Homo sapiens: one gene and its partners. The protein of the gene in region 4 interacts with the protein of the main gene of each other region in a pairwise test. Each region holds a gene or a part of one and is shown on either strand. Other genes may lie near its edges.

What was found.
Region 1: the proteins of HNRNPM (region 4) and LMO1 interact in binary tests that used the Homo sapiens proteins (3 or more experiments, as listed by UniProt).
Region 2: the proteins of HNRNPM (region 4) and MAGEA6 interact in binary tests that used the Homo sapiens proteins (3 or more experiments, as listed by UniProt).
Region 3: the proteins of HNRNPM (region 4) and AKAP9 interact in binary tests that used the Homo sapiens proteins (3 or more experiments, as listed by UniProt).

What each region holds. Positions count from the first base shown.
Region 1 is NC_000011.10:8,253,135-8,261,240, forward strand, and holds part of LMO1 (rhombotin-1), read right to left. Parts: intron 1-8,106. UniProt on the Homo sapiens protein: May be involved in gene regulation within neural lineage cells potentially by direct DNA binding or by binding to other transcription factors.
Region 2 is NC_000023.11:152,766,402-152,774,805, forward strand, and holds the start of MAGEA6 (melanoma-associated antigen 6), read right to left. Parts: upstream 3,289-8,404; 5' UTR 3,253-3,288; intron 1,525-3,252; exon of another isoform or gene 1,461-1,524; 5' UTR 1,395-1,460; intron 1,315-1,394; 5' UTR 1,250-1,314; coding exon 305-1,249; 3' UTR 1-304. UniProt on the Homo sapiens protein: Activator of ubiquitin ligase activity of RING-type zinc finger-containing E3 ubiquitin-protein ligases that acts as a repressor of autophagy. May enhance ubiquitin ligase activity of TRIM28 and stimulate p53/TP53 ubiquitination by TRIM28.
Region 3 is NC_000007.14:91,943,212-91,951,317, forward strand, and holds part of AKAP9 (A-kinase anchor protein 9), read left to right. Parts: intron 1-8,106. UniProt on the Homo sapiens protein: Scaffolding protein that assembles several protein kinases and phosphatases on the centrosome and Golgi apparatus. Required to maintain the integrity of the Golgi apparatus. Required for microtubule nucleation at the cis-side of the Golgi apparatus.
Region 4 is NC_000019.10:8,482,016-8,489,761, reverse strand, and holds the end of HNRNPM (heterogeneous nuclear ribonucleoprotein M), read right to left. Parts: intron 6,605-7,746; coding exon 6,551-6,604; intron 4,160-6,550; coding exon 3,357-4,159; intron 2,739-3,356; coding exon 2,687-2,738; intron 1,072-2,686; coding exon 908-1,071; 3' UTR 648-907; downstream 1-647. UniProt on the Homo sapiens protein: Pre-mRNA binding protein in vivo, binds avidly to poly(G) and poly(U) RNA homopolymers in vitro. Involved in splicing.

The DNA of each region.
Region 1 (8,106 bases), on a different chromosome or scaffold from region 4:
AGGCCCCCTGCCCTCAGCTGGGCAGACGAGGAAAGTGGGAGAAGCTGCCTCACGTCCTCAAGGAGCCACAGCCGTGGATCCTTTCCAAAGAGCAATCCTCCCAAAGCTGGGAACTCCAGGCCTGTCTGGAGCAGGGCAAGCTTTCCAAAGCACATCCACTTCCCCTGTCTCCCCTGCTCTCACCAGTACCCCAGGGAGGACAGAGAAATGGCACCAGTCATCTACAAGACTCTCAGAAGCTTTGCCTGTTCAAGTTTCAACAGACCTAAAAGGTAAACGTGATCATACCCATTTTACTACTTGGAATTATTATTAGAATTTACTCATCAGAATGACTTAGCAGCAGAGGCAGGATTTGAACCCGTGTGACTCAAAGCCCACTTCCTATTTGTTTTACAAATAGGAAAACTGAGAATCAGAGAGTTTGAACATTCTGATGGCACCCGCAGGTAGCCCCACACAGTCCTTCCTGGATACTGTCGTCAGGATTGGGGTTTTTAAAGATCGAGGGGAGAGGACACGCAGGATGGAGCAGGACTGTAGGAGCCCAGGCCAGCACTGCTCCCACTTGTCTGGCAAGAGTGGGTCTCCCTCCTGCTCTCTATCAAGTCACCGTGCCAACCAGCAAAGTTGAATTATTAAAACTCCTTTCTGGGGTACCCCACGAATTTTTCCCCGCCGAGACTCAGAGAAGAGGGGCAGCCACTCCCGCCACACAATATTAAAATGTCAGGAGTTTAAGGCCTGCGTTGGTTGAGTCATAAGTTATCAGCACCCAGTGAGGGCCGACAGAATGCCTCCCCTAAATTATTAAGCAGAATGCGTCAGACTGTAATATTTTGCTAAACCAAAGTACAGACACAGACAAAGATGTCATTTCAATATTTGAAACCAGCAAGTTTAATTTAAAATAAGAGCAAACCAATAAGCTCAGAACATAGCGGCGTATGAGAGGAAAATTATACTGTGAGAGGAAAAAAAAGTGGAAGGACTTAAGAAATTTATAAAAGTAATCTCCAAGTGGAAATTAGAAATCAAGGCCTAGAAACAGAATAACACAAAAGAAATATTACTGTCCACTTTCTAAATCAATATAACACTGCTCCACGCCGGAATTACCATGGTAACTCAAGTAAAAAGAATCAAGCAATTCTTATTATTTCAAAATAAAATCACAGCCTGAAGCCTGGGTTTTATTACAACCACTGATAGATCGCTGGCTTGTATTTATCTGAAATATTGCTTTTCAATCAGCTGGTTTATGAATGTACACAGGCCTCTCACCAGCCCACTTACCACCCCATTTTGAGGCTAGGGGCCAACCAATGAATTGATTCTCACCTGGCTGCATCTGCATATATGCTCAGGTCTAAGTCAGCTCAGGGAACACAGAACATCACATCCTTTCAAGCCGTCTAGTGGCTTTGCAGGACAGAGAGGAAAACCTGAAAGAGGCAACGGGGACTGACCTGATTATGGTCCCTCCCCACCGAGGCTGGCCCTGGGAGGAATGGAGCTGGGCTCCCATGGCAGCCCCACTCAAACTGCCCACAGCAACCTTCCTCCCTCCCCAAGTCATCTTCTCACAGGTTCGTCACCCTTCCTTGAACTCTGAGTGTCTTTCTCTCCATCCCCACGTCTGACAGCTGGAAAAGGGAGCAGACAGAGCAGAGAGAGTGAGCGCACTGACTCTGCAGTCAGCCTGCTTGGGTTCACAGCCCAGCCCTGGCATTCTTGAGCTGTGGGAGCTGGAACCAATTACTCAATCTCTTTGTACAATAATTTTCTCATCTGTAAAATGAGGGTAATAGTAGCTTCTTCCTAAGGTTCTTATGGGTATTAAATGAGATTATACATGGAAGATGCTTGGTGGACTGATTACAAAAATGGCCCCAATTCTCTACCCTTCCCCACAGCCACACCATTTGTTATATGACTTTTCACCTCCTACCTTCAAGAGCAGAATCTGCTTCTCCACCCTTTGAACTTGGGCTGGCCTTGTGATTTATTTTGGCCGATAGAATGCAGCAGAAGCGACAAGATCCCAGTGCCAAACCTTGGCCTCAAGAAGCCTTGTGTAGGCTGGGTGTGGTGGTGCGCAGTGGCACAAGCTTGTAATCCCAGCACTTTGGGAGGCTGAGGCAGGTGGATCGCTTGACCCCAGGAGTTCAAGACCAGTCTGGGCAACGTAATGAAATCTCATCTCTACAAAAAATACGAAAATTAGCTAGGCATGGTGATATGGACCTATAGTCTCAGCTTGGGAGACTGAAGAGGGAGGATCACTTGAGCCCAAGAGGTCAAGGCTGCAGGAAGCTGTGATTGTGCCACTGCACTCCAGCCTGGGCAACAGAGTGAGATGTCTCAAAAAAGAGAAGGCTTTTGTGCTTCCACACCTTCCGGACCGGTCTCTGCCATAAGAACAAGTCGGACAAGCCTTCTGGCTAATGAGGGCCATGCAGTCTTGTCACGCCCAGCATCCAACTGATCAGCCATCCTCCATCCTCCAGATGTGAGTGAGCCCAGCTGAGACCAGAAAAACTGCTCAGCCAAGCCCTGCTTAAATCACTGACCCACAGATTTTTGAGTTAAATAAATGCTTATTGTGTTAAGGCTCTACATTTTAGGGTAACTGATTACACAGCAATAACTAATTGATACATACAGATAGCACAATGCCGCACTTTTTTTTTTTTTTTTTTTTTTTTTGAGACGGAGTCTCGCTCTGTCGCCCAGGCTGGAGTGCAGTGGCGGGATCTCGGCTCACTGCAAGCTCCACCTCCTGGGTTCACGCCATTCTCCTGCCTCAGCCTCCTGAGTAGCTGGGACTACAGGCGCCCGCCACCACGCCCGGCTAATTTTTTGTATTTTTGGTAGAGACGGGGTTTCACCGTGTTAGCCAGGATGGTCTCAATCTCCTGACCTCGTGATCCTCCCGCCTCGGCCTCCCAAAGTGCTGGGATTATAGGCGTGAGCCACCGCGCCCGGCCAATGCTGCACTTTTAAGTACGGGTTCAGTATAATGATAGCTATAGTGTTTTATGACTCCTAAAGACTGAGAGGCCAAAGCCAAAAGATGATACTGTAACTGTACAGAGAGCAATGTCAATTCATACAAGCATGAAACTTTCTGGTTTATCAAGTGTGTGCTTGGACATAAAGTGCCAGTTAGGTGTTTCACCCTTTGTAGGGATGAGAAAACTGAGGCCCAGTGCGCTGAAGTCACACAGCAGTCAGCTGGGACAAAACCCAGGTTTTCTGAATCATGCTAGCGGACTACACCTGTAGACAGGAGGCCACTCAAGAAAGCCCAGTTGACCTCCAGGGGAAGGGACAGGAGGGAGGAGCTAGTGACCTGAGCCCATGGGCCTTCACACTGGGCAGCTGCCTCTGCGACCTGGACCAATCTGCTCACTCCTCTCACACCACCTGCTTTTAATTTGCCCCCAGTTGTATCAGCTACTGTGAACTCCTGCCTTGGACAGAACACAAAACGAACACACTCCCACCAGTAGCGAACAAGCTTGTTGCTAGGTTTGGTGGATGTGTCTCTGAGCATGGCCTGGAATGGCCTGGGAGAAGCCTCAGCCAACTAAAGGAGAAAGGGCATGCCAGGCAAGGAGGACATAGGAACAAGGGAATAGAGGCAAATGCTGAGTCTTCATGGAACCCAAAACCAGAGCAGACATACTAAACCTGCATAGTTTAGTGTGATGGTCAAAGCAGCAGTAGGCCTCAGGCAGGATGCCAGGGTAGCAGAGGTTGGGTCAGACTGGTTGTAATGAGCACCACAAGAAAGATAGCAGGTGAGATGAGAATGGTGGTAGCAGAGGAGAAAAGGGTAGGTCCAGAGTCCCAGATGAATGCAATCCAGTGGTGTGCTGATGCATGCTTAACGACCAAGTCTTTGGGAAAATGCCCTGATTTGTAGTGTTTGCCAACATCCATGGTACAAATACTCCCATTGTGGCTGACTTCAAGCTACCAATGCAGTGTCTCTGAACTCAGAGTTGGGAACAGATGTACAGAATCTCTTGCAAGCCAGGACAAGTTGACTCCACTGGTGTAGTCCAATCCCAAATATGGGCCTGCTGGGAAAACTCACTCTAGCAGCACCACAAAGAGCTAAGCCTGGAAATGGGAGGACACCTTGCATGTCTCAGTGTCCTCCAACTCCAGACAGGACAGGCAAGCAAGATGGGACACATGCCATAGGAACCTCTGGGGCTTCTCCACTTCCAAAGGCCCAGGACAGGTGAGTGTCCCTCAGCACCTTTCACCTTACATCTGAGGATAGAACTGCATCTTCTGGGCTGTCAGTAGGCTGGCAAGGGGCATAACTGGGACACCCAAGCACGTGGTCCGTGGTCCCAGTCCAGCTGATGTTTGCTGTAATCAGAGTTTTCTACCACCTAGCCTCATCACGCCTCAGGGCTAGGGCAGAAGGCATGGCAAAAAGATGCTGATGCTCTAGGCTCCAATTCCCCATGGAACCCTAGGCAGCCCTTTTGCCCTGTTTAAACCTCAACCTTCCCCCTATAAATGGAGGAACTTGCAAAGAGTGGTCCTAGAGACCTCTTCCCAAGGTGCCACCTGTCTTGGTGATCTGGACGTGGGCGAGTAGTGAGGTCAGCCTGCCTCCCAGGCAGCAATGATTAAGGACCATGATAAATAAACTGGCAGAGTGAGGGTGCAGGCCCAGTGCTTGCCAGCAAACAAAGCACTGGACTGGACACAGAGTTATTTCAGATCATACTGTAACTGAGCATGGAGCAATGTTGCTCCACACAGCCATGAGGCTTTCTGGCTTATCAAATGTGTACATGGACAGTACCTCACTTAATCCTGAATACAATCCTGCCAATTAGATATGGCTGTTCTCACTGTAGAGACGAGAAGGTAGAGAGGCAAAGGTTTGGAAGCAAAGCAACCTCTACACTGGGTGGACATGGAACACAAAATCACAGTGGACATATTGGACCTACATAGCTTAGTGCAATGATAGAGGTGGCAACAAGTCAAACAGTGCCTGGCACACTGGGACACCTCTACCTTCTGCCCTAACATCTTCCAATCTTCTCAATGTCCCTGATCAGGGCTTTCTGGGAGGCCCTCTGGACCCTGGAGATGGATCCAACAACAGCCTTGGCCTCCCTGCTATATGGGGGCACAGCTCTGGAGGGAGCTCCTAACTCCCTGGGCCTGCATCTGCTCTAGACCCCAACGTGGCTCAAGGCACTCACCCCCAGCCTTCCCTAGCTGCACCATCACGGCTCTGTCTTCTGCTCAGACAGCCCAGCCCGTCTAGCCATGGCCACTTCCCAACTCTGGCAGCTTCGCCCTGGGCCATGGCTGAACCTCGTGTTTCCTTTGCCCATGACCACAGGGAGTCAACTGCCAGTGCTCACTGGCAATCATCCATCTGTTCCAAGGTTGAGAGACCAAAATAGACCTCCTCTTGGTCCTGCCCACAAATAGAGCCTGCTGTGAAGTTCCTTAAATGGAAGCTTATGGGGCAGCTGCCTGGTCTGACTCTGAGACACAGGGTGACACAGGGTGGGGGTAAGGAATCAATTACTCGGGAGGGATGAGAAGCGGGTCCCAGCTCTAGGGAAACATACATTTTCATGTGCTAAAGGCATCTTTGAGGACATGTTCAGAAACAGACAGCAAGAGAAAAAGGCAGTTCCCACAGCCACAGAGGCCAAGTGAGTGGTCATGCCAGCACTGAGCCCCGGCATCCAAAGGGTGAAGCTTTTAGGCGAGCAGCGGCCAGTGATCTCAGCTTCCCCCAGTCCTAATGCTCCTGAAAGGCTCTCTCCTGCTCCCTGTAATTGGGCATCAGTAGTTAATGCAGTATTGACTGCATTACACGCTCCCGTGCCTCCCCTCGCTAATGCCAATTGCATCACCTTGTACAGTCACTGGCTTGCTTAGCCAATAGCCGTTAAAAGCAATCCAAATCATGAATCATATGGGAAACTTTTAGCAAGACACCGCCATCCAAGGAGACAATTTACAGTTGAGTTAATCTGGGTACATTAGCGAGACATGGATTCCGGACGACAGACCAATTTATGTTGTTTCCCTGTCCCCCCTTAGTGCTGCTCTGTGTGAGCAAATGAATGGAAGAGCAGGGAACAGAGAGAAGCACCTGCTTCTTCACCCAAGGCTCGGGTGTGTGTGTGGGGTTGGGGGGCGGGTTACCCATCTTTACAGACACTCTGCCTGGCTAAGTTTGGGCAGGAAGGGGAAGCGGCTGTATGTGCAGCTCAGGATGTGATGCCTCATTCCCAGCAGAAAGGAGGGCTGCCGCTGGGGCTGGTCATGGTAGATGCAGATGGTAACCCTCCCGCTCCCCTGCTTCTAGGCACTGGGCAAGTGCACAATTTGGTCCCCACCCTGCCAGACTCACAAGGCCTTTACCAGGCCTCAGCAGGCAGCAGTGTCCACTTGGCTCCGCCTTCCTGCTGATGGGCTGGGGTCTCTGGCATGGAACAGCATCAGGGCCTGCCTCCCTCTCCAGGGTTGGGACGGTCATGAGCACACTCTGCCAGGAGAGGCCCCTGGGATTCTCTGTGGTCTAGAACATGAGTGTCTATCCTAGGAAATCCTACTGGTGGCCCAGCAAGGGCTGGTTGGTACCCAAGCATAGCCATGCGCCGGCTCTGGTGGATTAACTGAGTCGGCTGTGGAATTTGTGCTCCTAGCAGTCATTAACAATTGAAGACTCCGCTGTCTGGTCCTCCTCAGTCCAGCTTCACTCTCTTGGGCATTTTTACTTATTAAAAATGCCCTAGGAATCATGTCTGGTGTTTAGTTCCACAACCCGCCTGCTGCTTCCTGTGGTCACCCCCACCTTCCTGCTGGGCCTTTGCAAAGGCCGTTTATACCCAGCCCTGCCCTTCTCCTGTGTGCACCTGAGAGCATCCCAGCATCCCCAGCTGGATGCCCCAGCCTCCTCTCCTGCCCAGTCCCCCACAGACCAAAGCTCTCACTGTTCTTGGGCCCTCTCAGACTCTCTGCTGTCTGCTCCTACTCAAAGGCCTCTTCTCGAACAGCCCAGGGGCTCATTTGACTTGGGTAGCATTCAGAGCTGTAGCTCTCCTTGCTCCCTTGGGATTTTAACCCTCCCAAAAAGCTCACCACCTGGTGCCAGCCCAAGCCGCAGGTGCCAGGGGAAGAAGGGCTGTTTCTCCGGGAAAGTTGGAGCTCAGTTCCATTTCGCTGACAGGCAGACCCAGCAGCATGTAGAAAGCCCGGACCCTGAGTTCCAGTAAAGTGGAGATGGCTAGGCCAAGAGCAAGCATCCAAATGAAAGCAATTAATCTTAAAACCCGAAGTTTAACCGTTTGCAAAACAGATCTTTCCGTCTCTGTGGTGACCCTTCACTGCTCGACCTAATGGATTACTTTATTAATAATGCACTGTGCTTAAAAGCAAAAAAAAATTTTTTTTTTCTGACGATTCAATACTTCAGAAAGTCTCTTAAACCCGTTGCTACGGCAAAACGATTGATATTTTATTATCTTTCAGAAGTGCAACATGAAAGCCCTGCAGCCCAGCAGAGCGGGAGCTTTGGTCCTCGGCAGCTGGCAGACCCGACTTCAACCAGAGGAGCCCCAGCCTCTCCAGACAAGATGCTGTCAGGTGGAGAAAAGGCGTTGGGGGTGGTTAATAGCAGCCCTGAGTCCCTGCTGCAGCCAGACAAAAGGTGCCGTATGCAGGGAACGCACCCTTTGGGGGAGCCGGGGGGTGGGGGAATGCTGCCACCCAGTTCAGATAGCCACCTGCTGAGAGGGCAGAAGCGTTCAAGAAGAAGATAGGTGGTTGGTTTGGAGGAGCAGATGAGTGCATCCAGAACCTTTCTCCCTCCCCCAATTGAAGATGCCATCTTCAAGGTTTCCTGGAACTATGGGAGGCCAGACTCCTCTTAATAGGGAGTGGAGTGCAGATGCATGAGCAGAAACGTCGCTTTTGAAAGACAGCTATGGGCTGGGTAGGACAAGAATAGGTGGCTGCTTAGGACACCAGTGGATGTGCTTGTGCTGTAATGGACCCCAGAGCCCAGCAGCTCCATGGTAGTGGGCACCATATTGTTTAGGC
Region 2 (8,404 bases), on a different chromosome or scaffold from region 4:
CTTACTCCTAAACTATATAAACAGCACTATGTGTGACTACTGTCATTCATAAACCTGGATGCTGACGCTCATTCAACCATCCGTTAAAAGGAACATTTGAACAACTCCAACAGGAAACAAAGAATAATCTCAAAGTCATCCAACAGAACAGAAACCCACTACTAAGAATGCTGACTGCTCGCTTCAAAGAGTGAAGAATGGGCCTCACGTCACAGGAGGCAGTGGAAACTAAGGGATGGGGCCCCGGAAGGTGCACTGGCCCAAACCCCCTCCCACTGGCCCTGGCTGCAACTCGTGCTCAGACTCACTCTTCCCCCTCTCTCAAAGCCCACTCATGCAGGAGTGGGTAGGAAATGCGAGGTCCTCCACTGATCTTTACCATATGGTGCAGGACTTTCACATAGCTGGTTTCAATGAGGGCCCTTGGACCCCACAGGAACTCATAGCATGCAGGATCACTGCCGGGGACCTGCCGGTACTCCAGGTAGTTTTCCTGCACGAAATATTGGGTGAGCAGCTTCTTGGGATCCCCGAAGATACTGTCTTCCCTCCCCTCAAACACCTCTAACACACTCAGCTCCTCCCAGATTTTCTCCTCAGGGGCACAGTCGCCCTCTTTTGCGATTATGGCCAGGATGATTATCAGGAAGCCTGTCTTGGGCATGATCTGATTGTCACCCAGCAGGCCATCGTAGGAGAGGCCCAGGCAGGTGGCAAAGATGTACACGTGGCCGATGGGGTCCACTTCCATCAGCTCGATGCCAAAGACCAGCTGCAAGGAATCGGAAGCTTTGCTGAAGATCACAGGAAAGAAGTACTGCCAATTTCCGACGACACTCCCCAGCATTTCTGCCTTTGTGACCGGCTCCCTGGCTCGATACTTGAGGAGCAGAAAATGAACCAACTTGGCCACCTTCCTACTGAGTGCTGCTTGGAACTCAGACTCCAGGTCAGGGAAGGTGCTTGGCCCCTCCTCTTCTTGGTTGCTGGAGTCCTCATAGGATTGGCTCCAGAGAGGGTAGTTCATGGTAGTGGGGAGGCTGGAGGCTCCCTGAGGACTCTGGGGAGGATCTGGTGACTCGGCAGCAGGCACCTCCCCCAGGGTGACTTCAACTAGAGTAGAAGAGGAGGAGGCAGCCTCCTGCTCCTCAGTAGCAGGAGCCTGCGCACCCACCAGGCCCAGGGCCTCTCCTCGGGCCTCAAGGCCTTCTTCAGGCTTGCAGTGCTGACTCCTCTGCTCAAGAGGCATGATGACTCTGGTCAGGGCAACAGGCGGGAGTGTGGGCAGGAGCTGGGCAATGGAGACCCACTGGCCTGGGGAGAGAGGGAGCATGTGAGAGACCTCAGCTGAGTACTGAATGGAACCTTGGAGGCTCTAACAAAGGCTTACTTACAGATCTTCTCCTTCAGTGCTCCTCCGGGGGCCTCTGTTCCTCCACGTCAGCCTGTCCCCTCAGAACCTGAAGGAGGAAGTGAGAGGGCACCTCAGGGTACATCCGGCCAGCACATGCTGAGGCTGCAGGACTGAAAGTATTGAGGGTGAGGCCAGGCGCTCTGGAGTCCATGTGTTCTGGGGCAGGTGGGGCCCTTGGTTTGAATCCAAGGCAAACCTTCACCGTTGGCACTATCTGAGCCCCCTCTACTCTGTGACCTGAGGACACTGCCTCAGACCAAGTCCTCACTGCCTTGTTCCTGGAGCTCCTGATTCCTGGGAGAGGAATCCACGGGCCCCCAATGTGCAGACAGCAAACGCAGCCACGGATTCCCAGAACTGTCAGGAGGGTTGGCCAGACTCTGTGAGGTCCCCACTCTACTGGGGTGGAGGATCCCCTCTGTGCTCACTCAGGGCCCTCACCTTTCTCCTTATAGGACCTAATCCCTCCCTTCTGCTGGCCTGAGAATCTCTCATGTCAAGAACTCACATACCTGATATGGTACAGAAAAACATGAGGGGACCCACATCTGGCCATACATTCCCAGGTCCTCCCGGAAAGGACAACGAGAGATGTCCAAATTTATTGAAGTCCATGTACCCTGGGTGAGGAGACTGCTTGGTCCTCACCTCCACTCCTAGTAGGGTCTGAGAGCCTCCCTCTACTGCCCTGAGTGCAGTCCCCTCAGACCAAGGCTTCCCCTTCCCTGACATCAGTGATCCTAGGATAATGGAGGGACCTCAGCTGACAGCCCTGCCCAGGCTCTCTGAGGTAACAGCAGGAGCAGGGCAGATTTTTATGGGGCCCCCAGTCCGCATTCTGTCCCAGGGGTACCCTCAATCCTCCCTCAGTCTCTTCACCTGGATGCTTGGCAGATCCTAGGACCACTGCATCTGTCCACCACATAGGGGCCCCTTGGGGGTACACCTTGGGCCCTGCAGATCCTGGGATTCCTCCCTCTGCTGACCTGAAGTCCCACTCTTCAGACCACAGCCCTCAACTCTCTGGTCACCCTGAAGGCGCAATGAGCACAGAGCACATTTGGCCACTGTGCCCAGCATCCCCCAGCCCAAGGTTGCCACTGATCTGGACTCCAAGGTCCCCTCAGTCCTCCCTCTTCTTCCTCCCCATGACTCCTCGCAGGGCTGGGCCCCAACCCCCTGCTGAAGTGGGTCTGCATCCCTAGGATTCCCGTAGCCGAATGAAAAGGTGCCTCGGTTTGAGACAGGGGTACAGTGGGCCCCCTGTCCTGGCATGCTGGGTCCCCTCAGGACTCCACTGTCTTCCAGGAGGGCCTGGGCCCTTTCGCTGCCTCCCAACGGCCATACTCGCGATACCGAACCCCTTCCCTCCCTTAGCCGTAGATGTGAACCTCAGGACTCACGTGCCTGGCCGCCATTCCCGGAGCTTCCGTGACTTGATACCAGGGGCAAAGCCCGGATTCTGCCAGGATAGGGGTGGGGGTGGGGATGGGAATGGGGAATGGGGGATGGGGGTGGGGTTGGTGTTGGGGGACGGGAATGGTGGTGAGGGTGGTGGTTAGGCTGCCCTCAGTTCCCTCTCGGGGTCCTGACCTTGATTCCTGCCACAGCGTGGGCCCTGACCTCTTCTAACCAGCCCTGCCCTGGCCACATTAAGCTCTGTCCCCAGAGTTCCCCGTGGCTAAAGCGGCGGGGGTCGGCGGGGTGAGGTAGTGGCGACCCAGCCTGGAAGTCTTCCCCTGCGGGGTGGCCCAGGCCCGGCAGCAGAGGCAGCACTGGATTATTTGAGGCCCTCTGTCTGAGGTGAGGCCCGCCTCAGTCCTCCCTCAGCGTCTTACCTTGCCTCCTCACCGAGCCTGGGCCGGCTTCCCTCCGCCGACGTCAGGCCGTCGCTCGTTGCTCAGGGCGAGAATCTCGCGGTCTTCTGACCTCCAATGCGCAAGTCAGTGGCGTCACATCCTGGCAACGGTACTACCCTGGGTTCCGGGCAGGGGTGGAACTGGATTCTGCCTGGATGGGGATCGGATGGGGGTGGAGGTAAGCATGAAGATGGTGATGGGGCAAGGGGTAAGGATTGGGACGGGGGTCCTGAGGCTGTAGATCCTGGTGGGGTCGGGGGAGTTGGGGGTGGGTGGGCGGGGCCTTCGGTCATCCCTCAGGGTCCTGAAGTTGATGCCTGGCTGAGCCTGGACCGCCATCCTCTGCAGATTGCTTCTGCTCCCCTCAGACCAAGTCTCTGACTCTGAGTCCCCCTGAAGTGGCATTGGGGGAAGGGGTGTGGTCTGGGTGACATCACTGCCTGCGTTTACCAGGGCTGACAAGAGGGGCTGAGCTGGATTCTGTGGTCCCTCTATGGTGTGTGGGGTGGGGGGGCGGTGTGGACCCTCAGTCCTCACTCAGGAGGGTCGTTTTCGTCACCTCTGGCTGTTGGATGAAGTGATGGGCAGGAGATGCTCTGTTTCTGTCACCTGTGAGCATTTGCACAGCTGCACCCCTTGTAGAGAATGCCTGCGGGTCCCAGGCCAGGTGCTCCCTGCAGGGCGGGGCGGCAGCTCCCGCGGTTGTAGTGACCTCCTATTTCAGTCTTTGTGTTCTGTTGAAAGAATTTTTTTTTTTAAAAAATGTAATTCCTCTCCCACTATGGTGGTTTCAGGTTGTTATTAGCAGAACTCTGGAGTCATACTGCCTTAACCAACCAAATTTTCCTGGTGTCCTGCTATTACCTAGGGCTCTTGGCATCGTGTTTTCAGAGGCTGCCTCAGATTGTGCAAAGAAGTGAAGTGGAAAATTTCAAACTTTTATTCTACCCATTCTGTCATCTACCGTGTAGGCCGGCTACAAACCTCCCCAACATCCCTGCTGCTAACCCCCTCCAACCAACACTGCAAGTGTCAAACACAAGTACCAGCTCAACACAGCCTTGAGTCTCACCCTGGGCTTTCCCTGTTTTGTTGCTGATACTGGTTTTTTATTTACTGTTTCCATTCTGTAATTTTCCAGGTTTGATTTGGGAAGCAGAGCACAGCAGCCCAAATTTGTTGTAATGGCGGCGGCTACAGGTAAGGCACTAAATTGTAAATAATTTAAGCTGAGTTTACATTTTTACAGTGTTGTGCTCCCCATGAATGAATATATTATACTCCTCTATGTATTTCAAGGTTTTTTTTACCTGAATATGTCAGTATACTTCGACAGTTGTCTCTATAAAGACCTTATACATTTTTATTAGACTTCTTTTCAGGCAATTCATGAATTTTGTTGCTATTGCAAATGGCATATTGTCTATTAATTGTTGTAGTTAGTTATTGCTTTCGTGAGGTGAAGATTTTGATTTTGCTGTAGTAATCTGTTGCACACCTCGTTCTGAAGGCCGATGCACTTGAATATTCCACATACCTTTTCCTTTGAATTTTCAAGATCGATAATGGTATTATCACTAAACATTACATATTCTTCCAGTATTCATACCACTTACTCATTTTGGTACTTATAGCTCTTTGTGTCTCAATCCTGATTTCAATCGTAGAGATAATAGCCTACATCTACTTCTCGTTCCTGACGTGAATGATAATTATTCGAACGTTTTGCATTTAAGTATGTTTGCTGTTGATTTTAGGAAGTGCAATTTCTCTTTGAATATAGGTTAAATACTTTTTTTTTTTTTTTTACCATGAACTCATATTAAATTTCTTTAAAAAGCTTTTTCTGTACCCGTTGACGCAATCAAATTTTTTTCTCCTCCATTTTGTATGTAAGGAATTACAATGAAACCGTTTTTTTTTTTCCCCTAATGTTAAACCGTATGTTATTTCCTTGGGCAGAGCCTGTTTATTTAATATGCTAGTAATTTACGTAGGATATTTGCTGCTATGTAAGGGAGCTTACTTAATGTGTGCTTTTTTTCCCATCAAGGGTGGGATGTGGTCCTCATCTGGTTTTTGAATCCAGGAGGGCTAGTCTGGAAGAATGAATTGAACAATTGTAAATATTTTGTATGTTCTAGAAGAGATGAGATAAGATGGTGGTTAGTTTTCCCTGATCATTTGGTAGAATTGGCCTCCAATACTGCCTAACCTGGAATGTTTGAAGGTGGCTTGAGCTTTGAACATTGTACAGTTTCAGTTTTTATAGTTTAATTAAAGTTTTCTTTTTCTTTTTGGATCAGTTTGGTTACTGGTTTATTTTATTTCTACAAAGTGGTCAGTTTCATTTAGGATTTCACTTTTAATGGCATATTTATTATAAAAAAAGTTTTACTAGGGAAAGCCTTCACACATACAGAATAATAGGAACTAATGTAATGAACCCAGGATACTAGATACCCAGCATGAACAACTTTAAATACACAGCAAATCTGGTTCCAGTTAGACACTTGCCTACCTGCACATCAGCTTCTGGAATAACGTGGAGCGAATCTAAGGCATTAGACCATTTCATCTCGAAATAACTCAATATGCATTTTTAAAAGATAAGGACGTTTTATTAAACAGAATCCCAATAGTTTTCATATCTGAAAAATTATATAAATGATTATCAAATATTCAACTATTTTACATGCTTATCTGGCCGACTTATACTTTATAAAAAACATATTTCTTTGATGGAGTACCCAAATATGGTAACTTTCCCGCCACTTGCTTCACTGTAGTGGTTTCATACATGTATAATACAGCTAGGTTTGTGTGTGTGTGTAACATTCTACATTCTGTCCCATGATTCTCCAACTTCTTAAGTTACTTTTAGACTTTACATACATTAAGCTTCACTCTTTGTGCTGTAAAGATCTATGGGTTTTGACAAATGCCTCGTGCCGTTGTCTTAGTCCCTTTGGGCTTCCATAACAAAAATAGTGTAGACTGGGTGGCTTATAAACAACACAACTTTATTTCTCACATTCTAGAGGTTGGGAAGTCCAAGATCAAGGTGCTGGCAGATTTCATGTCTGATGGAGACCTGCTCCCTAGTTCATAGACAGTTGCCTTTCCCCTATGTCCTCACATGGAAGAAGGGGCAAGGGATCTCTGTGGAGTCTATTTTATAAAAACACTGATCCCATTCATGAGGACTCTGCTCTCATGAACTAGTCATTCTCCAAATACCCCACCTTCTACCTAATACCATCACCTTGGTATTTCAGCAGATGAAGTTTGTGGGAACACAAATATTCAGATGAAAGCAAGCATGCATCCACCATTACAGTATTACCATACTAGTTTCACTGCCCTGATAAATCCCCTGTGCTTGTCAGATAACCCCCTTGGCTGCCACTGATAGGTGTTTCATCTTTATAATTTTGCCTTTTCCTGAATGTCATATAAATAGACTCGCATACTATGTAGCCTTTTTAGACTGGTTTCTTTCACCTAGCATAATGAACTGAAGAGTCATGTATAACTTTGTGTGGCTCAGAACTTATTCCTTTTCATTGAGGAGTAGTAGTATCATTGTCTGGTTGTACCATAGTGCGTGTGTATATATATATCCATCCACCAAATGAAATACATTTTGGATGCTTCTATTTTTGGTGATTATGAAATAATCTTTTGTATACAATCGTATACAAATTTTTATGTAGACGTAAGTTTTCACGTCAATTGGGTAAATTGATTATGACTGCTGAATCTTATGCTGTGTTCAGTTTTTTAAGAAAACGCCAAATTGTCTTCCAAAGTGGCTGTACCATGTTGCATTTCCACCAGCAATGAATGAGAGTTTCTGTTGCTCCACATCTTCCCTGGCAATTGATCTTGGTTTTCTTTTCTTTTTTTTTTTTTTTTTGCTTTTTTATGGATTTTGGACATTCTAATAGGTGTGTAGTGGTATCTCATTTTAGTACACAGTTATCTAATGAGAACGGATTCTCAGTACTTTTTTATGCTTATTTGCCATGTGTATATCTTCTTTTGTGAGGAGTGTGTTCAGATCTTTGCCTATTTTCATGTTTTTTCTGTCGTTGAACTTTAAGAATTCGTGTATGTTGTAGAGATATGTTCTTTATCACATATGTGTACCACCGATGTTTTCTGCTAGTCTGTGGCTTCTGTTTTCATTCTCTTAACATTGTCCTTTGAAGAGCACATGATGTTTATTTTAATAAAATCTACTTGGTAAATTTTTCTTTCATTGATCATGCTTTTGGTGTTGAATTTAAAAACTCACCACTGAACTCAAAGTTATGTGAATTTTCTCTTATGTTTTCTTATAGAGGGTTGTATAGTTTTTGCATTTTGCATTAGGTCTGTGATTTATATCGAGTTAATTTTTCTGGAATATGTAAGGATGTTTCTAGGTTATTATAATTTGCCTGTAGATGTCTAATTGTTCAGGCACCTTTTGCTGGAAAAACTGTACTTTCACCATTATTGCCTTTGTTGTGAATCACCTGACTATAAGTGTGCAGGTCTATTTCTGAGCTCTATTCTGTTTTATTAATCTATGTGTGCATTCTTTGCTAATGCTTATGTCCTCCACCAAATTCATACTTTGAAGCCCTCAGCCCCGGGGTGTCTGCATTTGGAGATGAGGCCTCTAAGGAAGTAATTAATATTAAAAGAGGTCATAAGGGTGGGGCCTTGATCCCATAGGATTAGTATGGTTATAAGCAGTTAGAAGAGACAGAAGAAATTACTTGTGTGCCTGCACTAGCTCTCTCTCTCTCTCTCTCTCTGCACATGCACAGAGGAAAGGCCAAGAACGGATATATTGAGAAAGGGCTATCTACAAGCCAGGAATAAGGCCGTCACCAGAAACCAACCCTGCCAGTCCTTGATCTGGGACTTCCATACTTCAAAACTGTGAAAAAAAATAAATTTGTTTTGTTTCAGCTACTCAGTCCATGGCATTTTGTTAGGGCAGCCTGAGCTTACTAAGACATAACCTCAGGTAACACAATTTTTTTTTGTTTTCTCCTACAGAAAAAAAAAAAACCCATAATTTTGACATTTAAGTCTGTGGTTCATTTTGAGTTACATTTTTGTATGGTGTAAGATA
Region 3 (8,106 bases), on a different chromosome or scaffold from region 4:
ACAAAAAAAAACCCCTGGAAATAACTTTTAAAGACAACACGAAGGGAATCATTTTCTAAGTTATATAAATATGATGGAATATTTTAAAGCCATTAAGATTATGAAGACTGATAGGAATATGAAAAATAGTGTGAAAAGGGCATTATCAAAAATAGTATGTACATTATTTCATTTGTATAAACGTGTGCTTTCAGATTAGAACTGAAAAACTCTGGATTATAATTTTATTCAGCAAACGTATATTGAATCCCTATTTTATACCTAGAGGTGGTGACAGTGTCTGCTCTCAAGTTGCTCACTGTTTAGTGGGAGAGACAGACTCTGGGTGATAAGTACAAAGAGGGATGAGCTGCAGTAGGATTTGGGGGATATTCTTCCACGTTTTGTTAAAGTGTTTTAAATACTACTATGTCATTTTATAGAATTACTAAGAAAGCTTTACTATTGATATTAATGCACCATAATATAATGCCTTTCAAATAGTTATTCATACATATTTGCTTAATGAATGAACAGAATGATTAATGAGTCATTAATAAGTGTTACTTTCCTAGCACGGTTGTAATTTAATAACATTAATCTAGAATTCTCTTAATGTGAAATCCATATTGCTGGCATCAGAAACAACTTTAAATGATCATTTTCCAAAGTTTATCTGAGACTTCATTCTGCAAATGTCTCATTTGTTCACTGGACTTAAGTATTGTATTTGATAATCTAGTTTTGCAAACCACAACTTACAAATCTTTTTGGGGGTAATTTATTGATAAACAGTTCCATTGGAAAATTCCCTTTCTGTATCTAAACCTTATAAATGATCACTTTTTAAACAGTTTGTCATGTATGCAGTATAATATATAGTATACTGTATAAAATGTTTTATACTACCCCAAATCTGTAATAATGGGTTAATAAATTATGATATGTAAAATAATTCTACAAAGACTTTTTGAGTGTGGAAAATGCCCACAAATAATGCCAGGTTAAAAAGAAAAAAGTTACCAGGAAAAGGTATATGTACATATTTAAATATGAAGACACCTGAAAAAAAGCACCAAGATGTAAATCGTGGCTATCTCTGGGTGGTGGCTTATAGGCAATTTTAATTTTCTTTATACTTTTAGTATTTTCCAAATTCTTGATACAATGTATCTCTTTTATGACCAGAAAAGAATATTCAAATGCCATTTTTTTTTTTTTTGAGACAGCCTGTCTCCCAGGCTGGAGTGCAGTGGCAGGATCTTGGCTCACTGCAGCCTCCACCTCCCAGGTTCAAGCGATTCTCCTGCCTCAGCCTCCCAAGTAGCTGGGATTACAGGCATTTACCACCACGCCTGGCTAATTTTTGTATTTTTAGTAGAGATGGGGTTTCACCATGTTGGCCAGGCTGGTCTCGAACTCCTGCCGTTAAGTGATCTGCCTGCCTCGACCTCCCAAAGTGCTGGGATTACAGGCATGAGCCACTGCACTCAGCCTCAAATGCCATTTTTTAAAAAACATAAAGGCTTATCAAATACATTATATTAAACACATGTTATAGTGTATGACCATTATCCAGAACAGGAAAATGAGGCACAGAATAACTAGGTTTCCTATTTTAGCGTAGGCCTGGAATTGTAATTGCTATTTCAGTGCAGAGTGTATAATATAGTTGGGATTATATTGTTAGACATTTTATAGATTTCCTTTCTGTTTTTGTTGTGCTTATTCTTTCCTTGCTGTTAGTTCGTATTGCTATGGGCATGCTCTTACTCCTCATCTGCCTCTTTTCCTAATTTGCTGTTTTAGATTTGCTACGACTAAGGAACCCAGAACTGAGGTTGACAGAATACTATGTAAAAAGAAAAAACAACAACAACAAAGACCTTAGGCGGGGTGTGATGGCTCACTCCTGTAATCCCAACACTGGGAGGCTGAGGTGGGAGGATCGCTTGAGCCCAGAGGTTCTAGATCAGCCTGGGCAATGTAGTGAGACCCCATCTCTAAAAAGAAAAAAGTATAAAAAACAAAACAGGTGGGGCGCAGTGGCTCACACCTGTAATCCAAGCACTTTAGGAGGTTGAGGTGGGTGGATCATCTGAGGTCAGGAGTTTGAGACCAGCCTGGCCAACATGGCAAAACCCCGTCTCTACTAAAAAATACAAAAAAATTAGCCAGGCGTGGTGGCAGGTACTAATCCCAGCTACTGGGGAGGTGGAGGCAGGAGAATCACTTGAACCCAGGAGGTGGAGGTTGCAGTGAACCGAGGTTGTGCCACTGTACTCCAGCCTGGGTGACAGAGCAAGACTCTGTCTCAAAAAACAAAACAAAACAAAAACAGAGGCCAGTGTAGCCTGCCCAGTGGGCTTTAGGGCAGTTTAGTTTTTCTGCTGCTTGTTGGTTGTTTTGGTTTACTGTTGGGTCCTCAGCTATTTCCTCAGTATTGATGTTGCAAGAAGCATGACCCTGGGAGATGTGAGACATTACTGCATTATGTATTAAGTAAATATTTTCAGAGCTGGGCTAGCTCCCTCTGCAGTGTTTTGACGAGGATGGCACTACATAGGTTGTCCTTGTGTTGAACCAAACTATTTTAACTCCATTTTAAATGACTTCATTTTTTTCCAAGTATAATTATTCATGGCACGTAAAGGAAGTATTGTAATTTAAGTGAACAGAATTAAATAGAGGACAGTTGTATATTTAATATAAAATTATTACTCATGTAAATTTGCATTAGGTATACTTTTTAAAGTTATTCAGTATTTTATATAATGGGCATTATTTGCTGAATAATTATAAAAAACTACTGTCTATTATATTCAGTAATTTGTAATTACATGACTTTTGTTTAACAAACATTTTCAGTGTGAAGAGTAGTTCCAATTGTGTACAAAAAAAAGGATGGTGCTCCATGCAAGCTGTATATTGATTATTGATAGCAGGACTTTTCAGTTACTGTTTCCACTGTGATAGACAAAGCTGGTTATGGTGTAAAACTGTTCTTTGCATATTTCAGATACTTTGTTCCACAGCTAAGAAAGTGTTTTCCCTTCCTGTTTTAAGCATTCTAGTTTTTCATACTTAGATGTGGCAGAGCTTACTTAGCATTCCGAGTAGATGCAGCAGTTTGATAGCTTCATCAACATTTATTGCAGCAATAGTGCAGTGCCTGTGACTTAAAACTAATTCATAACCTTCAGGCTTTTTTTTTTTTTGAGACGAGATCTCGCTGTGTTGTCCAGGCTGGAGTGGCAGCCTGCCTTGACCTCCTGAGCTCAAGTGATCCTCCTGCCTCAACCTCCTGAGCACCTGGGACTACAGATGTGCACCACCACACCTGGCTAATTGTTAAAATTTTTTTGTAGAGATGGGATTTCACCATGTTGCCCAGGCTGGTCTTGAACTCCTGGGCTCAAGCAATCCTCCTGCCTTAACCTCCCAAAGTGCCGAGATTATAGGGGTGACCCACTGCACCCAGCTTAGGCTTTGTCGGAATGAAGCAAAACATGGTGTTTAGAGAGAGAATGTGGAGGAAGGAACGTGATGCCCTGTCAGTGAAACTGAAAGTTGAATGATAGCTCATGGAAAGAGGAAGTGAAAAAGGTAGGATACATCCAAGTGATTGAAATATGACAAGAATGGAACAAAAATTTTTTCAAACAAAAACATCTCTTATTTTATAAATAAAAAGGTTCATAGTAAAAGCTAAACTATGTCTACAAAATATCTATTATAGGCTACTGAATATTGAAATGTAAATGAATTTCTTCTAATATAGCTAGAAAAGGTTATGGTAAATTGCTAAACAATAAGGGACATTATTTATATTCATTTCTTAGTAAGATTCCACTAAAATTAAGATTAGTCACTTTATGTAATTGCTTAACATCCATTTAAAAACTATAATTTGGAAAAGCTACGGAATTTTTCAAAACTTATTTATAAAAGTGGTTTGGTGTCTGGGGTGTGTGTGTGTGTGTGCGTGTGTGTGTGTGTGTGTGTGCTGGAGAGAGGGAGAAAGAGAATTTATAATACTGCTATCTGGTCTGGTAGAAATGGCACTAGGACTTTGGAGACATTTATGTGTTCATTTGTTCAACCAACATTTTTGAATGCCTACGACTGCAGCTATGAACTTTTACTTAGCAAGCATTTTTTTTTCCCCCCGAGATGGAGTCTCACTCTGTCACCCAGGCTGGAGTGCAGTGGCACGATCTCGGCTCACTGCAACCTCCACCTCCTGGGTTCTAGCTATTCTCCTGCCTCAGCCTCCCGAGTAGCTGGGACTACAGGCGCCCACCACCACACCCGGCTAGGTTTTTATTTTTAGTAGAGACAGGGTTTCACCATATTGGCCAGGCTGGTCTCAAACTCCTGACCTTGTGATCCGTCCACCTTGGCCTCCCAAAGTGCTGGGATTACAGGCGTGAGCAACCGCGCCCGGCCGCAAACATTTATTTAAATGATCACAAATTCTGTGCCTTATTGTCTGTTGGAATAATCTTATGATGTGTACCTCAACAGGTGTTTTGAAGGATAAATGAAATAATGGTTGGGAGCTTTTTGAGTTCTCTAGGTGCTAGATATAAAGAAGCTATAATTTTTTTTAATTGAGGTGAAATTCATAAGCAAAATTAACCATCTTTAAGTGAACTTAACACAGTGGCTTAACACAATCTTATGCAACTACTGCTTCTGTCTACTTCCCAAACATCTTTCCATCTCAAAATATAACCCTGTGCCCATTAAGCAGATATTCTTCATTGCTTCTTCCCTCTAGCCACTAACAATCACCAACGCACTCTCTGGATTTACCAGTTGTAGATATTTAATATGAAAGGAATCATATAATATGTGACCCTTTGTGTCTGGCTTCTTTCACTTAGTATGTTTTCAAGGTTCATCCATTTTGCTGCATATATCAGTACTTCATTCCTTTTTATGGCTGAATAATATTCCATTGTATGTATATACCATAATTTGTCCAATGATAGGCATTTGGGTTGTTTCTGTCTTTTGGCTATTGTGAATAGTGCTGCTGTGAACATTTGTATGGATGTATTTGAGTACCTGTTTTCATTTCTCTTGGGTATATACCTAGTAGTAGAACTGAGCAAGGTCATATGGTAGTTATATTTCAACTTTTTGAGGAACTGCCAAACTGTTTCCATAGTGACTGTACCATTTTACCTTCCCATCAGCAATGTATAGGACATTCCAATTTTCCCATAACCTCATTAACAGTTGTGTTTTCTGTTTTTTTTGTTTGTTTGTTTTGTTTTTTTGTTTTTTTAATACTCATCCTTGTGGGTATTAAGTGGTTTCTAATTGTGGTTTTGGTTTGTATTTTCCTAATGAATAATGATATTGAGTATCATCTTTTAATGCACTTTTTGGCCACTTGTAGATTTCTTTTTTTTTTTTTTTTTTTTTTTGAGATGGAGTTTTGCTCTTGTCTCCCAGGCTTGAGTGCAATGGCGCAACCTCAGCTCACTGCAACCTCCACCTCCTGGGTTCAAGTGATTCTCCTGCCTCAGCCTCCCTAGTAGATGGGATTACAGGCATCCACCACCATGCCCGATTAATTTTTTTGTATTTTTAGCAGAGATGGGGTTTCACCATGTTGGCCAGGCTGGTCTTGAACTCCTGACCTCAGGTGATCTGCCCGCCTCAGCCTCCCCAGTAGCTGTGATTACAGGCATCCACCACCATGCCCGATTAATTTTTTTGTATTTTTAGCAGAAATGGGATTTCACCATGTTGGCCAGGCTGGTCTTGAACTCCTGACCTCAGGTGATCTGCCCACCTCGGCCTCCCAAAGTGCTGGGATTACAGGCCTGAGCCACTGCGCCTAGCCCATTTGTAGATCTTCTTTAGAGAAATGTCTATTAATATCCCTTGCCCATTTTTTAATTGGGTTGTTACCAACTTCTTTTATCTAATATTAATTATATATGTATATAAAATATATATATATCCTTTCCGTATGTGTGGAGAGAGAGAGAACGTGTGCACTCAAGCACCAGAGAGGAATGGGTAGAAATACGTATCCCCAGTGGGATTATCTTCCATATATATATATTTTTAGGCTTTTTGGGCTTTGCCAAAATTTAAATTGTTGCTTCCTTTGAGTGATAGGTTCTTGGTGAGTTGATAACAGCATGATGCTGAAGCTTGATTTCTTTGTTGGCCAGTGAGTCATTCCATTCCATGAGCAGCTGTTTTACAAGTGCATGCAGTTGGTTAAAGGGGCACCTGTTGGATTTTTGGCTTGATCATTGCCAGTCCATTTACACTGTGAGAAAAAAGTAACTTAGTGTTCAAAAATGAAAAGACCTGTCATTTTAAACATGGGGGATCTGTAGCTACTTCACTAGTATGAGATGTCTTTGTTGTCATATTGACACCCCTTTTATTTTTTGTCTTAGTCATCACCAAACTGTAACTTACAACACTTAGTGCCCTTCTAGGTACATTGCATAAAGCTTTGGTTGATTTTTGCATGGGTTTAACAGTATTCAAAAGTGTTCAATATTCAGAGTATTCAAAAATTTAACATTATTTCAGGAGTAGTTTTGCTTAGGTTCTTTGTTTAAATTTATAGATTCTTTTGTAATATGTAAAATTCCTTTTTCCTCCTTGTTCACTAACAATGTAGTGTTTGTTTTCAGTTACCATCAGAGTTAAGATTCTTATTGTGGTTTACTGTTCTCTGAGATTTTTGTGTGGTGTGAAAGTTTCTCTGTAAAAGTCTAAGAGTTTTTCCCCCTTTTAAGAAATAATTTCTTAAAGCCCCCAAGATTATTGTTTTGATGATTCAGAACTATAATCAACTTTACTATACAAAGTCCTAATCTGTAAAGATTGATTTCATAGGTTCTCTGATTTACAGATCTCTGAAAAACTAATAGGGTATAAAATCTAGGCTCTCTCTCCTATTAGTACTGAACACACTATAAAATTCCTTGTTGTTTACTAGGATTGCTCATTGTGGGCTCTGTGGTTAGGCTGTATTTATTCCTCCAGGGTCTCACTTTTTTTTTTTTTTTTTTTTGAGACAGAGTCTTGCTCTGTCACCCAGGCTGGAGTGCAGTGGCACTATCTCGGCTCAGTGCAAGCTCTGCCTCCCGGGTTCACGCCATTCTCCTGCCTCAGCCTCCCCAGCAGCTGGGACCACAGGTGCACGCTGCCAAGCCCGGCTAATTTTTCTGTATTTTTAGTAGAGACGGGGTTTCACTGTGTTAGCCAGTATGGTCTCAATCTCCTGACCTCATGATCCGCCTGCCTCGGCCTCCCAAAGTGCTGGGATTACAGGCGTGAGCCACAACGTCCAGGCTAGGGTCTCACTTTTATTCAAGTTAGTATTGCCTTATTAGTTGTTTCCCCAGAGAAGATAGTGACAGGGATCAATTATAACTAAAATAGTAGTTCTCCATATGTATCATGAATCAAATTTTGTGTGTGGAGACCTTGTGGGGATTGCAGTGGGCATGGGGCAGAGATCTCAGTTAATTCTTACGCCGTTTATATCCTCTACTCCATTTCTTGAGAGCCAAATAAATTAGTAGATCTTCTTCTAAATGGCAAGATATTAGAAAATATGTTAAAACTGCATTAGGAAATATCTACTAGGAGTTTATATATGAAATAATGAGTTTTGGCTGAAAGTTACAGAAACTCTTTTCTATTCATATACAACTTAAAAATACTGGAAATTCTTTTGGTGTGAAATTTTTTATATTTGCCAAAATAATATTTAATTTTAATTTGTATAAATTCATTTCACAATGAAAATTCATATCTGAGCATTTCTAATGACTCAACAAGAGAACTCTCACTTTTCCACTTTAAACAACCATTAGTAATTTTTATAATAAAGTTTGAGAAAAAGAAAAGATAATTTGAGGTTTTTTTTTTAGTTGAGAAGAATGCGTAATTTTTTAATAAATTCAAAGGGTGAAATAAGGTAGGCAATTTTAATAAGCCTCAGAATTTTAATTGTATGGCAGGAGAGTCTGTCTACTTTTTCTCTAGGATTTGTACTTAAATTTTTTTAATGTTCTAAGCTTTCTCTTCTTTCTTTCTCTATCTCACTCTCTTTCTCTCTATTTTCTTTTATTTCTC
Region 4 (7,746 bases):
TTGGCCTGAGTGGATCCTGAGAGCGCTTCACTGGGGGAAGGGGTGGGGCCTATACCCAATTCTGACAGAGCCCAGGTATCAATCAGATTTGGCCTGAGCCTCTGGCAGGACTGAACACGCATGGAAGGTGGCACACAGTTTGGTCTGTTTCAGCAGGAAAAAAAAAAAGCCAGAGAACAAGCCTGACTCAGGCAGGGCCTGTGCCCCAGGGCGTTAACTTCACAACAGGGAGACAGGATGGCTTTCGGGGGGCTTTTTTTTTTTTTTTTTTGAGACGGAGTCTTGCTCTGTTGCCCAGGCTGGAGTGCAGTGGCGCGATCTCACTCACTGCAACCTCCGCCTCCTGGGTTCGAGTGATTCTCCTGCCTCAGCCTCCTGAGTAGCTGGGACTACAGCCATGAACCACCGCGCCTGGCCTCAGAAGGCTCTAAACAGCCAAACGCTCCATTGTAAGCCGGGGGATTACAGCCCACAGGAAGGCAGTTTCCAGGGAAGAGTCTCCCCCCATCTGTGGGCAGGCACCCACCCCTGGGGCCTCAGACAAGCAAGAGAGGGGATGAGATCCCTGCTGCTTGGACTGGAAGCTCGAGTGACCCCAGCTCCCCACACCTCGCGTGGTTGCCCACACAGCACACACAAGCAGGCCGTTTTCAGGAACCGGTATTTATTATCAAAGTCATATTCGATGTCAACAAGATGCCACAACTACAAAAAAAATTGCGCACATTGCAATCTCAATGCAAACAGTCAAATGGAACCCCAGTCATTAAAAAAGTAATTCAAATTACCCCAAAAAGCAACTGAATTTTTTAAACATCTTTATACATCCAGCCAACAAATTAAAATGGTTAACAAGAAAAAATACAAATTCAGAGGTCTCGTATCGATGTTTAAAAAAGGCAACTGCTTAAGCGTTTCTATCAATTCGAACGTCAATCTCTCGGCCACTCAGCTTCATGCCATTCATCATCCGGCAGGCTCTCTCGGCCACCTCTGGCGACTCGAACTTAACCACGCCACACCCCTTGGACTTCCCATTCTCCATCTTGATGTCGGCGTACAGCACGTGGCCTAGGACAGGGAGGGAAGAAGAGACGACACTCAGTCCCGATTTTGTTAGATTTTGGTGGACAGAGTCAAAAAGGAGAGGCCCTGAAGCCTAGAGCACAAAGGCTCAGAATACAATGGCGAGAACCAATGACTACGGCCCCCTCAGCCACACTGCCATTCTTCTGCTAACAGAGCCTGCCCCTGCCCCATGAAAAGCCTTCCTGGCGGATTCAATGCACGCCTTTACGCTTCAGGAAGTTCAAAAAAGAAGGCGCAGTGTAAAGCCAGCTTTATAGGCAGAAAGTTCCCATACATTTTACAAAGTCTTCATTTTTGATATGCCACCGCCCCTGGTTACAAAGCCATCCGCAATCCAATGGACACGTCTGTACTGTCCAAATGAAAGCCAGCAGGTTTCACTTATTCATTTGAGCACCCGTTAAGCATCCAGATATGTGTCAACGCCGTGGACAGAGCCCTAGAGGGCAAAGGCTCTACTCCAGGAGTACCAAAGGTGGTAGGGCCACAATGCCAGAGGTGGGAACTCAGTGCCTAAGAGAGGGCCCAGGGCAGGTAGGGTGGAGGGGTCCTCAGGGGCAAGTTCTGAGTGAGCTTACACAGAAATTCACCAGAAAGAAGACTTGCCAGTAATTGGCTCACACGAGAGCATTGCGGGACACGTGCAGCACTTGCCGCTCAGGTTCTGGGACAGGAGGGAGATGGAGGAGGATAGGACCAGGTCTTCAAGGGGCTTGTGAGTCTGGACTTCCTCTTGAAGGCACAGGGCCGCTCCAGGCATTGCAAAAGTGGGGGCTGGGGGCGCTGTGATCCCACTGGCCTTTTCAGAATATCTAGCTACAACATGGGAACTCAGGAGTGGGGAAAGAGGTGAAGAATGGAGCAAAGAGGCAGATCATGACTCAACGGCTTGCCCCAAGAACCATGGAGAAGCAGCAATGGTGGTGAAATCGGAGCCACTGCTGAAACAGGAAGCGGGAGGACAGTGCGGAAGCAGCTGCCCAGACCTCTAGCTCAGGCCCCTCTAGCTAAAAAGAACAGAGGTGGTGCATGCGGGGTGGGGGCTCACCCTGGAGGGCAGGGAAGGAAGACAACTTGCTTTCAGCCACAGACAGAGCCCTCCAGAAGAGTTGCCCGATGTGCCAGGAAACCACAAGACCTTAGCCTCACCCTCACAGGAGCTGCTGTGTGCCCAGAGCCTGCACCGCCTCCCCATGGCACCTGCTGGGCTGTGTTCTCTCCGAGGCCCCACACCAGCTGTGCTGAGGGGAAAGCGACCTCGTCTGGGATGTATTTATTTAGCCTTGCCACCTAGAAGCCAGGTAACCTCAGAAGGAAGACTCTGCCTGACTCATCTGTGAAATGGGGACACTACTACCTTGTTTCAAAGACTCAAAAAGAAAAAAGGAAGTAAGGATGAAATGAGAACACAGCTGAAAAACATGTGACACATCACAGGACACTCAACAACCTGCCTGAGCATTGGCGTGGGCAGAACATGGCAAGGCCATGGGTCCTGAGCCGACGGAGGGGGCTGGGAGGGAGGTTTTGCTGCTGACTCGGCTGCGTCACCAACAAGCACGAGGGAAGCACCTACAAAGCCGTTCCCAACACTTACCGCACTCGTTGAATTTGTCCTTTAGCATCTTCCATGTGAAATCGAATGGCAGCTGAAGGGGAGAAGAAAAGGGAGACTGATGCGTGATTAAACCAAATCCTAAGGCATGCCTTGCAGCTGGCTCTGAGGGCCATGCTAGATTTCTCACTATACCGAGAAGCTGGCTGCCCTTCAGACTGAGGCGATCAGCAGGAAACTAATAGATACATGTGGGACAAGGCTGTGAAGCGGCACAGCCAGCTCCCTCCCTGGGGCTCTGCCTGTGGGAGCACCGTGCAGGATGGGACACTCAGGCCTGCGGTGCGCAGCCCACAGTCACTAAATAGTGGCTAAGGGTGGCTGAGCTGGGGAAAATAATTCCGTTACAGCCACTTCTTTCCCTGGACCATCGTGCAACACATAGTGCCTCTTCAAGCCAACCAATCAGAAACTGGAGTCTCTGAGCTCAGCGTCTGCTCCATATTCTAGCACAGTGGAGAAGCCCAGGCTCTTCCAGAACCCACAGTTCTCACATTCCTTACTTGTCCCACTAGCATAAAACGTTTGGGACAGTGGCAAGGAGGTGTGGTCCCCTTTGAAGGGCGCCACCTCTGACTTCATCCTGCTGATCTTTGCCTCCCCTGTCCCCTCATGCTCACCACCACCAAGAAGTTCCCCAAGAGCCACTTACATTTCTCACAAATATCTGGCAGGCCTTCCTGGCCACCCCAGGAGCATGGCCTCCAGCTCCACCAAAGGAACCTGCGAAGCTTCCTCCGAAGTTGCCACGCTCCATCTCGATGGCACGGTCAAAGCTGGCACCGCCACCGCCACCCATGGCCAGGCCCATGCGCTCAATGCCAGCGCCCAGGGCCGGGCCCATGGCAGGGCCCATGCGCTCGAGGCTGTTGGCACCCATGCGCTCCAGGCCCATGCGCTCGAGGCTGTTGGCGCCCATGCGCTCCAGGCCCATCCGCTCCAGATTGTTGGCGCCCATGCGCTCCAGGCCGGTGGCCATGCGATCCATCACGGGGCCCATGCGCTCCAGGCCAGCTCCCATACCTGCGGGCACCATGCGCTCCATGCTCAGGCCCATGCGCTCGATGGCAGGGCCCATGCGCTCCACGCCAGAGCCCATGCGCTCAATGGTCTGGCCCACACGGTCGATGGGAGCGGCCATGCGCTCAAGGCCGAAGCCCATGCCGGCACCCATGCGCTCCACGCCAGAGCCAATGCGCTCCATGGTCTGGCCCATGCGCTCAATGCTGGAGGCCATGTGGTCGAGGCCCAGCGGGCCCATGCGCTCAATGCCGGAGCCCATGCGCTCCACGGAGCCCATGCGGTCCATGACCAGGCCCATGCGCTCGATCTCGGAGCCCACGCGATCCATGCCGTGGCCCAGGCCCGCGCCCATGCGCTCCATGCCGGCACCCCCGAGGCGGTCAATGCCAGGACCCATCCTCTCGATCCCAGGGACGCTTCCTCCACCTCCACCTGAAACAGGGACACAAAACACAGGTGGGTGTCAAGAACTTGAGTGTGCGTGTGCACAACACGCCAGACCACTTCAGCTCATGGGCATGGATCAGGGGTAAAGGCCCACCATAATTTACCATTAAGACACCCCTCAAATGTTGACAACAGCTACAGCTGTGTGGTGGGCACATGGGGGCCTCCCAGCATTCTCTCTGCTCTATGCCACAGCTGAGATTTCCATAACACAACTTCTAAAGAACACCCCTGTATGTGTGTCTGTGAGGTGCTAGTGTCTGTGACAAGCTTTGTGAACCATGGACGTCAATTCCTGAGACATCTGAGGTTTCTCCATCAGCAGACACTGAGAAATGCTCCAGGGGGAGGCATGGACACCCCCCACTCGGGGGGCCACCCAGGGTAATGAACAGGAGTTATGTGGAGACAAGTCGGAGTCACTCCCACCTTCCCCTCCCAGCCTGTCCCTCTAGGATGCTCTGCTGGGGGCCACTCTGGCTGCATTTCCTCAGCGCTCCCAGGGCACAGAGAAAGGATTTTCGGCCACACCATCAAGCAGAGGTCAAAAAAACACACACCGAGAGATCCTCTGTGTACAAATGCACACAGCTGGCCACTTTTGGGGACCCTATTGTCAGGGAAACCAAATGACTTGCTGGCTTTGGAAAGAAGATGTTGATGGCACTGCAGAGTGGGCTCTGGTAGCGGCTGGGGGTCAGTCAGCAGAACGAAGGGACGCCCCCACCCGTGGTGCTTGCAACTCTGGAAAGCAGGGTCTGGCTCCGTCAGCAAGGCCACCCCTTTCCACATGCCGAGTTTGGGGCTCCTCCCCGAAACCCTGTCGCTTGCCTCTGAGAGTGGCCATCAGCCCAGAGCCAGCCTGTGACCGACCCAAGCAGCCTAGTCAAAGATACCAATTCAAGAGGAAACTGGGCAGTTTCTCTAACTGGCTCTGTAACTGGCCACACCGCGCCTGCTTCTCTAGCTGCACAGCACACAGTGAGCGGCCAAAGCAGGCCCGACTCTAAGAATGTGTGACTTTCAGAGGGGAGACGTCTCAGAACTTCCCCACAGTATAAGGAACCTAGCGAGAATGGGCACTTTGCCCAAAGGCATCAGAAATGAGGTGGGGCAGCTGGGTGTGGTGGCTCATGCCTGTAATCCCAGTACTTTGGGAGGCCAAGGCGGGCGGAACAAGGTCAGGAGTTCGCGACCAGCCTGGCCAACATGGTGAAACCCCATCTCTACTAAAATTGCAAAAATTAGCTGGGTATGGTGGCGTGCGCCCGTAGTCCCAGCTACTTGGGAGGCTGAGGCAGGAGAATCGCTTGAACCCAGGAGACGGAGGTCACAGTGAGCCGAGATCGTGCCACTGCACTCTAGCCTGGGCGACAGAGTGAGACTCCGTCTCTCAAAAAAAAAAAAAAAAAAAGAAATGGGAGGAAATGGTACCAGCGTGGAGCTCCAGAGCCAGCCCAACACAGAAGTCAGGAGGTGAGATGCCAAGATACTCAGAGGGAAAATCAGGCTGAAAAAGTACATTTGGGCCAGGTGTGGTGGCTCACATCTGTCATCCCAGCACTCTGGAGGTATGCAGGTCACTTGAGGCCAGGAGTTTGAGATAAGCCTGGGTAACATGTCAAAATGCCATCTCTACAAAAAAAATCAAAAAATTAGCCAAACCAGGTGGCACACGCCTGTAGTCCCAGCTACTTGGGAGGCTAAAGTGGGAGAATCGCTTAGGCCTGGGAAGTTGAGGCCGCAGTGAGCAGAGACTGCACCACGGCACTCCAGCCTGGGAGACAGAGCGAGACTGTCTCCAAAAATGCTCAAAAAGTACATTTTGTTCTCAGTATCCATAAAGCTGTGTATGAATGAAAGATTCAGAACAAAATGTTTCCGGCAGTCATCACTGGGCGATGGGGTTTCAGACCATACTTTCTTCATATTTTCCTAATGAGTACATTTATCTATTTTACAAGCATTTATTACTTGTTGGGTGGTGTGCTTTCAGTCTTATCATCAAGTCTAAGGAAAATATATTTACTTTTAGGAATTTATAATGTGGAAAACAAAACCCCCAAAAGAGAGGTACTCTAACAATGAAGATGGTCGGCCTGTGCACAGCACGTGCGGAAGCACTCTTTCACATGCATTCACTCTCCACAGCATCCCTGAGGCAGGTACTATTACACCCCCATTTTACAAATGAGTGCTATGAGAAACAGAGAGGTTCAGTGACTTGCCAAACGTCACACAGCTAGAAAAAGGCAGAGCTGCTCCCACCCCGGGCAGTCTGTGTCAGAACCCGCACTTCTCACCACTAAGCTCTACAGTCCCCAGCGATAACAGCCTGTTCTAAAAAAACAAAACATCAAACTAAGCGGTTCCTACCTCCTCCCTGCTTTGCAATGATCTCTCCTCTCTTCAGTGCATTACTTAGGATTTCTAAGGAAATCAGGAAGAAAAAAAAATTAGCCAAATTCCTCTATGGCAATAGAAATGTGCTCATTACAGATTCCAGAGTAGAAATACTACTAATAAAAATGACAAGATAAAGGGAAAGGGGTTTGAGAAACACACGCACAGACAAGATCATTTTACAGAGAACTAGGAGAGTCCTTGATGCTGGGTCACGATGCCAAGACCCCACGTAGCTCCAGAGTCTGAGGCCCAGCGTGCGGGGTCACCTGCGAATGCGCCCAGCAGAGATAGGAGTCATATGCATTCATGAACTGAGAGCCAGAGCAAGAAGAGGGCCATCGGGTCTCGCTCAGCGGCAGTTTTCTAAAGCTGGTCCAGGCTCTCAGGACTGAGGCTTCCTTGCCTCCCCTGAGCTGGAAAGTAAGCCCCCACCCCCACCCCAGCCAACTTCTTGTTCAGAAGACCGCCCAGCATCACCCACTTGGAGCCCACATTTATCCACCCAGAGGCACCTCTCATTATCATAGAGCAAATTAAAGCTGCAGCTCCACGGACAACCTCAACGCTAACAAATGAGCTCTGCGCGGAAATCCTTGAGCATGCCAGCCTTGCCTGAAATGAGCTGGGTGTGCTGTGACTAGGCAACAGATAAGGTTTCAGGAAAATACCTAAATTGCACCCCCCACCAAGTATCCCAAACACAGTGCTGCTGCTCACTTGCCCACGGTGCACCCACACCTCTTTAAGGTTTGTCTGATGCTATCATAGCATTACCTTTCCAAGCTTCTGGTCCATCTTTTGCTATGTAGAAGACACTTGTACCCACCCGCTCTGGTCTCAAAGTATATGCTCAGCAACTTGGACATTAGCCACGAGGCACATTTCGCTTTATGACCACGGCCACAAAGCCATTAAAACCTGTCCCCCGGCCGCGCAGTAGCTCATGCCTGTAATCCCAGCACTTTGGGAGGCCAAGGCGGGTGGATCACCTGAGGTCAGGATCAGCCTGGCCAACATGGTGAAACCCCGTCTCTACTAAAAATTAGCCGGGTATGATGGCAGGTGCCTGTAATCCCAGTTACTCAGGAGGCTGAGGCGGGAGAATCGCTTGAACCCTGGAGGCAGAGGTTGCAGTGAGCCGAGATCGTGCCACTGCACCCCAGCCT